Linked DNA regions of Homo sapiens: region 1 is linked to region 2. Evidence: fine-mapped expression QTL. A gene starts in region 2. The other region holds a variant in brackets. All regions are shown on one strand. Distances are between the middles of the regions.

Evidence for each region. PIP is the estimated chance that this variant, and not a neighbour inherited with it, causes the effect. A credible set is the group of variants that fine-mapping cannot tell apart.
Region 1: its variant is the best candidate, but not a certain one, in a credible set for the expression of EFHD2 in lung (TOPMed, PIP 0.82).

The regions. Positions count from the first base shown.
Region 1 is chr1:15,462,441-15,466,825 of GRCh38, reverse strand. It overlaps CELA2A (chymotrypsin like elastase 2A), which reads right to left. Exons shown (of 8, transcript NM_033440.3): 4 at 3,965-4,093; 5 at 3,304-3,440; 6 at 682-827. LOC105376767 (a long non-coding RNA gene) reads left to right here. Exons shown (of 3, transcript XR_002958256.2): 2 at 1,954-2,744; 3 at 3,078-3,311. Among named protein-coding and RNA genes, the nearest start is that of CELA2A, 7.9 kb to the right of the region's middle. The variant T/C (reference allele first, on the strand shown) is at 2,347.
Region 2 is chr1:15,407,282-15,411,653 of GRCh38, reverse strand. It overlaps EFHD2 (EF-hand domain family member D2), which reads right to left and starts at 1,766. Exons shown (of 4, transcript NM_024329.6): 1 at 1,375-1,766. The coding sequence starts at 1,682. EFHD2-AS1 (EFHD2 antisense RNA 1) reads left to right here. Exons shown (of 4, transcript NR_183705.1): 2 at 3,747-3,817. RefSeq lists an enhancer at 1,144-2,006 and a silencer at 1,519-2,118.

The sequences.
Region 1 (4,385 bases), 55 kb before region 2:
CTGGAGGGGACACGCTGCGCCATTGATGAGACTAATTCAACAGAAAAACCAGAAGTCATCGTAGAAAGGCCCTAAGCCAGGGAATACTTTCCTTTGGTTCCCTTCCAGCATAGAGGAAAGGATACATAGTGACAGTCACGAGAGACCTTGATGAGACCCAGGGAAGGACTTCCCAGCAGTGAGATGGGTGGATACTACAAGGAGAATCTCAAAACATCTCAAAACAAGAACAAAAAAGAACCAAGATCAAGTTTTTTTGTTTTTTTTTTTGAGTTTCGCTCTGTCACCCAGGCTGGATTGCAGCGGTGTGATCTCAGCTCACTGCAACCTCCGCCTCATGGGTTCAAGTGATTCTCCTGCCTCAGCCTCCCGAGTAGCTGTGAGTACAGGCGCCTGCCACCATGCCCGGCTAATTTTTTTAGTTTTAGTAGACACAAGGTTTCACCATGTTGGCCAGGCTGGTCTTGAACTGCTGACCTCAAGTGGTCTGCCCGCCTGGCCTCTCAAAGTGCTGGGATTACAGGTGTGAGCCACCGTGCCTGGCCAAAGATATATCTGGAACATGTTTCGGGGTAATTCTGCCAGGAGGTGGGAGGATGGACCTATGGAGGGATGGACCTCTATAGCCTTATCCCCAGCCACATTTTGTCATGGAGCGGAGCCCCTGATTTTGGTACTCACGTTGCAGCTGGAGATCACGCCATCACCCCCAGCACAGATCATACTGGTTTTCACGCTGCTGCCCCACCAGGCAGAGCTGGAGCAGGTGGCATAGTCCACAACCAGCAACCGGCCCTGCTGCAGGACATCAGGAACAGCCCCGTTGGCTGAATGAGATCAGAGAGAAGCCATTAGGGATGCAGGGACTCCTGAGAAAAAGGAAGTGATGGACCCGTCTTAGGTTTCCCCTGTTCCTGTCTTCCATCCATTGCAACATGCGAACAGCCACGTTTGTCTATACTGTGTCCTCACGGTTGATTGGTTCAGCAGTGAACACCTGACTCAAGCTAAGCCAATGAGCTCCCTCCCCTGGGATTCTGAGATGGGGTCTATGAGATTCCGGTTTCAGAGGACATAATTCTGGGAAGCTGTTGGCAATGACTGACATTTTGTTTTATGTGGAGAATGAAGTAGACCCACAAAGAACAGAAATTCTGAGGGAGGGTTTCCTGTGTTTCTTACAGGTTTCCAGCCCCTGATTCTAGCTTGTTCCTGATGCCTGGCTGTATCTCTGCCCTTGGGATAAAACTTTTAAATCCTTATAACAATTTCCCTTTTTTTGCTGAGCTAGCTCCATGGCTTTCTGTCACTTATCTGAAATAAGAAAGTGAGCCTCCTGGCTGTTAGAGCCCCCTCCTTGGGAAAAATATGCTGGTGTGGTGAAGGGAGGGCTTTCATAATGGCCCCCAATGACACAGCCACCATCACCTCCATTACTGTTACCACAGCTATGAGTGGCAAGGATGAGATTAACACAATTCTTCACTTCCGATTGAAGCCTAGGGAAGTTAAGTGTCGGTCGGGCGCGGTGCTCACCCTCTAATCCCAGCGCTTAGGGAGGCCAAGGTGGGCAGATCACTTGAGGTCAAGAGTTTGAGACCAGCCTGGCCAACATGGTGAAACCCCACCTCTACTAAAATACAAAAATTACCCGGGCATGGTGGCACTCGCCTATAATGCCAGCTACTTGGGAGGCTGAGGCAGGAGAATCGCTTGAGCTCGGGAGGCAGAGGTTGCAGTGAGCCGAGATTGCACCACTGCATTCCAGCCAGGGTAACAGAGTAAGATTCTGTCTCAAAAAAAAAAAAAAAAAAAAAAAAAAGGGAAGTTAAGTGTCTGGCTTAAGACCACTAATAAGTAATTAATTAACACTTGCATAACATTTTGCAATGTATGATGCATTTTCACCTTTCACCTCTTTTAGTCTTCACCAACAGTGTTTCCATTTTACAGATGAGGAAACTGAGGTTCGGAAGTGGCTTGCCCAAGGTTTCACCGTGACTGACAGAGCTGGGCCGAAAAGCCAAGCATTTGGAGGCCTCCCCACTCTCACTGTCTCAGATGAAATGCGCCTGCCCCAGGGTTGTCTGGGGAAACAAACAGGAGGTTGTGCTTGTATCTTAATAAGCATGAAATGCCTCTTCCACCACCGCTCACCGCAGGATTTGATGTGTCCTTGTGTTTACAGATAAGCCAGTCAAGAGGGCAATGGGAATTATTTGAGGGTACGTATGTGGATGTACCCCTGGAAAAACATGTCATTATACTTATGGGTTTATGTCATTAGGAAAAAATGTCATAATGTGATTAACACTCATAATCTCATTATGGTCATAAGGTCATTAT[T/C]ACTCATCCCTTCCTAGAATCTTCCAAACCTCTGGTGATTTCACAAGGGAAGGGCGGGAACTCTGTTCCTCTTGGTGGCTACTGTCATTGGATCTCTGACCCTTGGAGTCTATGTCAAAGGAGACCCGCCCTCATTCAGGTTCTGAGCAGCAAGACCTAATGGCACAGGGGACAGCTTTTGCTATGGGGCATGGAGGGTCTGATGAGGGCTCCAGGGGTCTCAGGTCACAGAGGAAAATGCTGTTCTGAACTCTAGCCTTGGGCCACACAGAAGATGTCACATGGTCTCTGTAACTTTCTCTCCATCATAGGGACAGTGACAACAACTAACACAGCACCTACCCCATTCTGGGCTTCCTATGGATTATCTCCTTTAATCCTCGTGACAACTCTGTGATGTAGGTGCTATTATTATGCCTTTTGTTTTTGAGGCGGAGTCTCGCTCTGTCCCCCAGGCTGGAGTGCAGTAGCGAAATCTTGGCTCACTGCAACCTCCATCTCCCAGGTTCAAGTGATTCTCGTGCCTCAGCCTCCTGAGTAGCTGGGACTACAGGTGCACACTGCCACATCCTGCTATTTTTTTTTTTTTTAATATTTTTAGTAGAGACAGAGTTTCTCCGTGTTGGTCAGGCTGGTCTCCTGACCTCAAGTGATCCGCGGGATGGGCCTCCCAAAGTGCTGGGATTACAGGTATGAGCCACTGCGCCCAGCCAAATATTTGCATTTTACAGATGAAAAAAGTGCTGCATGGAGAGACCTAGTAATGTGTCCAAGGTGTCACAGTCATTAAGTGGGAGAGCTGACATTTGATCCCAGGCAGGCGTCAGCCTATGCCATCCCGTCTCTCCAAGGCAGCCACACACCCTGGGATGACAGGTGAGAGGCCCCGGCCAGACAGGGGTGACGTGAATCACCTCCCTTCCCTCCCAGGCCTGGGGGCTCCTGGCTCCCACTTACTCTGCAGCCTTCCCCAGCCCGTGACGTAGCAGGGGTAGTTGTTGGGTAGAATGGTGCCGGCAGGAGGGAGGCAGGCCAGCTGGATCTTGTCGGTGAGGGAGACGGGGTTAGCCAGTTTGAGCAGGGCAATGTCGTTCCTGGGTGAGTGTGGAGGCGAAGCATGAGGACCGGGTTGACTTTTCCTGCCCTGTGGGCTTTGGAGGGCTTGGAGACCTTGTCATCTTCCCTGTACCCTGTTACCCCAGGTTGCTCTGACTGGCAGGGCCCCAGGGCATGTTTGAAAATGCAGAGGGCCTTGTTGAAAGGGGGAAGGCAGGAGAGATTGTGTCCTACTCCAGGGACAGTCACAGGGTTGACAGCACTGTCCCTGTGTCCCCAGGACCTGGCATGAAGTAGATACATGCTCAGCGGACAGGGGCCCTGCAGGTGTAACTGGCAGCAAACCCAGGTCGCTCTGGCAGTCTTTGCTTCACCCTCCCCAGGTCACATCCCCACCCCAGACATCTTTGGAGCTGGTTCCACATCTAAGAGGCCAGAGCTCCTTCCCCCTCCCTGTAGAAGAAGCAGAGGGGGTGTGGTGTGGTTGAGACCCTTGCCTCTGTGAGACCCCCATCTGTTCCCTGACAACCTCACCCCCAAGTGCACCCAGACAGAAACGAACCCTTTGGAGATTTGGTTGGAGTTCCAGTCCTTGTGCACCACAATCTTAGAGACACTGACTGCCAGCGAGCCGGACTCCGCAACGTAGAGGTTGTGCCGGCCCAGCCCCACGCGGTAGGTCCTGGAGGAGCTGGGAGAAAGGGGGCCCAGGGAGAGGGTCACCTCCAGAGGCCTGGCTTTGGATAATGCTGGGGATAGACCCAAGTAACTGGCTGCTGCGTGAGCCACTAGATGGGACTTGGGGATCTTTCCTCCCCTGGGACAATCAGTTAGTTATAATAGGGCCTAAAGTATATAACCTAAGAACTATGATCATATAATAATTGTTACTATACTAACTATAAACTACAATATAAAATAAAAGTTATAATAACACAAACTCTATAGTTCTTATGGAGGGAATGAGATGAACACAGAGAAAA
Region 2 (4,372 bases):
TTCCAGAACCACTCCAGACCAGCACCCAGATCGTGGAACGAGGCTGTTCCCTCTCCAGGAGCCAGGGGCAGGGGGACAGGGAACAGGAGGTGGGGAAAGCTACCAAAGGGAGGGGCACTGGCACCTTCCCCATCCCCTGGGCACACACATGGCTGGGAGAGAGTGGCTGTGCATCTTAGACCCAACAGAGTGGGACCCAGGGATGGGCCGGAGGGAGCTGGGCCCTCTCTCCCTAGCCCCTCCACAGAGACATTAAGATTGTTTTTGTGGGGGGACAGGGGGATGAGCCCACACGCCTGGGGGTGCCCATCCACCCTGGTGAGGGCACACAGTGTGGATCTGATGGAATAAAGGGTAGGGGTGGGGGTAACAGGGCAAGTCACATAGGAAGGGGCCCCTTTTGACCAGGGTGGGTGTGGGACATGGGGGGTCCCTGTGGGGAGGGAAGGGGATATACGGAGTGGGGAGGAGAGATGGGGGGCCTTGCGACAGAAGCAGGGGAGCGGTGACTGCAAGCTGCTGGGTGCACGGGGGTGGGGCGGGCAGGAGCGGGAGGGAGGCCTTCCAAACCCGGAGGGGACTCGGCCCACAGGGACGACTGGAGTGAGGTTTACACCAGAGGGGCAACAGGGGCCGAGGGGTCCCTTCCTAAGGAGACCACTTGTGAGTGAAGGATTTGGGTCCTGGCTAATGAGTGGGTGGGGATGGAAAGGGCAAGTCTTTGCCCCCAGTTTGCTGGTAGACGCTAAGTAACTGGAGAGGAAGTTGGGGGGATCCCTGCCCAGAACCCACCTTGAGGGAGACCTGAGATCGCAGAGGAAACGAAAAGACCTTAAGGGAGGGAATGTGGTTGGCATGTGGTGTCGAGGGGCACTGGGGTGGGTATCTTTGGCCAGCGTGTGTTGGGGTGGGGGTGGGGAACGCGAGTAGCTGGGATCGGGGAAGGAAGGCCGCTGGGTCCTCAGCCTCGGTGTGTGCGGTGTGGGGTGGTGGAGAAGCCCCACTAACAGCGCGGAGGGCCCGGGACCCACACGTGTGGTGGTGGGGGTGGGGCTCGCGGGGCCTGGCGATTATCTGGAAGGAAGCCTGGGGTCCCCCACTCTGTGGACGCGTCTATGGTGTACCGGAGGCAGCACAAATACGAGTCTCCGCCGCGTGCCAGGGGCCGGGGGTCCCCCAGACTAACGTGCGCGGTGAGATGCCGGGTCTCGATCTGGAAGGGGCCGCCGGGTCCCCAACCCCGGTGCGTCTGGGTTCGGGGAAGCTTGGCTGACGGCAGGCTCCCGGGGCGGAGCGGGATCCGGGGATCGGGGGGTTCGGGGCCCGAGACCGGGTCGCGGGGCGGGCGGGGGGCCGGGTCGCGCGGGCACTTACTGCTTGAACATCTTCTCCATGTCCTTGATCTGCTTCCTGGAGAACTCCTTGAACTCGGTGTAGGGGTTGAAGACGCGGCGGCTGGGCGACTGGGGCTCGCCGATGCCCTGGTTGAGGTCTGCGCGCCGCAGCAGCTTGGCGCTCAGCTCGCAGTCCGCGCTGCCCAGCGCCTCGGCCGCCTCGTCGGGTGCCCCCGCCGCCGCCGCCGCTGCCCCGTTCAGCCCGGGCTGCTCCGGGGTCTCGCCGCCGCCCTCGCCCTCCATCTGCAGCCGCCGGCTCAGCTTGGTGGCCAGCTCGTCCGTGGCCATGGTGGCCCGCGCGGCACTCGCCTTGGCCGGGCCCCTGCTCTCAGCGCAGCGCCGCCGGCCGCGCTCTTCCTCTTCCTGACACTCCCCGGGCCAGGCACCGCCCCCGAAGGTGGGACTTGGGCCCTGGCGGGGACCGCGCGCCCCGCCCCCGCCCCCGGGCCCGCGCGGCGTGCGCGTGATCGCTCCCGGCCGCCGGGGGTCGAGTGTACTCTGCGCGCCCCGCCCGCCGTCGTCTGCCCCCCGCGAGGCTGGGGAGCGCGGCCGAAAGCCATGCCCCTCTTCGTGCCCACTGTAGCAGCTGAGCGGGAGGGGTCCTGCTGGGGGCCGGGGCCGGGCGGGAAAGAAGAGGGCTCCTCCCCCGCGGCTTGGGTGAGGAGCGGGGCTTGCCGGGGGGCGGGGAAGCGAGGGGGGGCGCCGCCCCACCCCCTTCTCCGGAATCCCCACGCCGTGAAGTCATAATCCTGTGTCTGTGACACCCTGTCGGTTGCTATGGAAACGACTCGCTGTTAAACACTGGCGTTCTCAATGAGGGTTGCAGGGGTTCCGAGGCGGACCTGGGGAGCAGAAACCCCTGTTTAGGGTGAACCGTGGCGGGCGCCGATGGCCTCTTGGAAGAGGACAGACTAGCAGCTGCGAGGGAGATGGGACTGGGTTTCACCCCTGAAAGGGCCCCTGGAGACAGCGGGTGAGGGACAGGGGAAGGGGCTGGTGGTCCTCTCTCCCGAGGCCCCGCACCATCACACGGATGACTTGGCACAATAGCTGCTGGGCCAGTGTTGTCGCCTGTGACTGTACTTTAGGGAAACTGACAGGGAGATCATGATGTCGCCATTTTGATGGGGTCCCCAGAGGAGAGATGTCCTCCCCAACGGCTCCTGGACAGGACTGGGGAAAGAGTTCAGATAAGTATCTCTGTGGTCTGGGCTGTCACCTTACAACTGCACAACTCTGGACCTCCAGCATCAGAACCACTGGGGCCTAGGTTAATAATACAGATTTTCAGGCTCCAATTTGGACAGACGAAACTGATCTCTGGGGTGGGACCCAGGAATCTACGTGTAAACAAGCACCCAGGGGAGTTCTGCTCACTGAAATTTGAGAATCCCTGATTTAGAAGGAGGACTATGCTCTGTGCATGTTCTCTGAAATGTTGGGTCAATCAGGACCTGTCTACTGAAACTGCTCCAACCAGCCAAGGTGCAGAGAAAAGATGCGTGCAGGGCCGAAAACCAGGGTGCTCTGGAGGCAGGGAGCCCTCGAGAATGTAAAGCCAGCAAGCTGTTACAGAGTGATTTGCACAGAACAGACACTCAGTTGATATTTGTCAATTTGCTGTGTTTAAGAACCTTGCTGAATTAATTTAAAAGGTATTTTTAAAAGAATGAAATTGAGGAAAAAACCTTCAAGGTTCAGAAAATGTGAAGTTCTCATTTACTTGTTTATGAAATTGTTTTTGAGTCCAATAAAGATGCTCAGCTAAAATGGTTTTTTTGTTTTAAATCTCAGAATTAAGTTTCTCTTAGTTTTGGGCAGTTCGGTCCAGCTACTTGCAAAAGACAGGCTTCCATATCTCCTGTATGCAGCCCTGAAGGACCCAACAGAAGTAAAATAGTTATTTAAGGAATGCAAAGGACTAGGGACAGGATGCAGATTAAAATGTTTAAGATGATGTCTGCAGATGATGTTTGTAGATGCTTAAGTTTGTTGAATTCTTAGTCTTCCTCACAAAGCAGCTAATTACTTTCAAGACTCTAGTGAGCCTCAATTTACTCCAATTTATGATTTCCAATGGTTCTGCATAAAACTGGGTTGCCGTTTTATGAAATTGTTTGCATCTGCTTGACGTGGGCGCAAACTTCACAGTGAGGAGATAATGTGAGGGTTTTGCCTTCTTGCAAAACAACTTACATATATATGTGAAAAAACTGGGGTTGGGGTTTGAATTATGTGGACTGCCTGTGCGTAGTAAGCTCTCTGGTCAGTTACCTATTTGGCTTTGTGTGGACACAGCTCTTAGGAGGGAGGGTGGTGGAATTCCTGCTCATTACCTATAGTATCTTGCAGGAGGGCTGCTGAACGCCGGAGCCTTACAACTGTTAAACTCAGGCAGAGCTCGGGAAATGCTGCCCGGATGGGTGAGTCCTTTTAACACCTCTTGGGTTGATTTTTCTCACAGGTTTTCGGGGTTTGCAGAGCTCTGAGACTGTGACCACAGGGTGAGACCTCAAGCTGCCCAGTACTGTGGCCCCATTTCAGAGGCCTTGGGCCTGGGCCAGAGATGGACGCTGGGGCTGCCTTTTACTCCAAGTTTTTTTCTTCATTGGTCATTGGTCATTGGGCTCCAAGAAAAGCACTTTTTCAGGAATCAAAGAAGCAGTGATGGAACGAAAAGCAGAGAAAGCTGATGAGCCCTGAATGGAGGTGAAACTTCCAGGAAATATCACTTGCCTCTTGATTAGGGGAAATCACTTTTGAATGACCCCGAGTTTTGTGCCCCAAGCATAGATTCTGGCAGAAAGAAACAGTCTGGACTGATGACACACTACAACATTTGGTCATGTGGAAAGAATGATCTTCAGGAAAAATCACACCCTTGGCAAAGGCTTTTTACAGAGGCAAGGGCGAGCCGGCCAATTCTGACAATATTCCAGTGGCAAGGGAGCCAGGCTGACTCAGTCATCATTACTTGT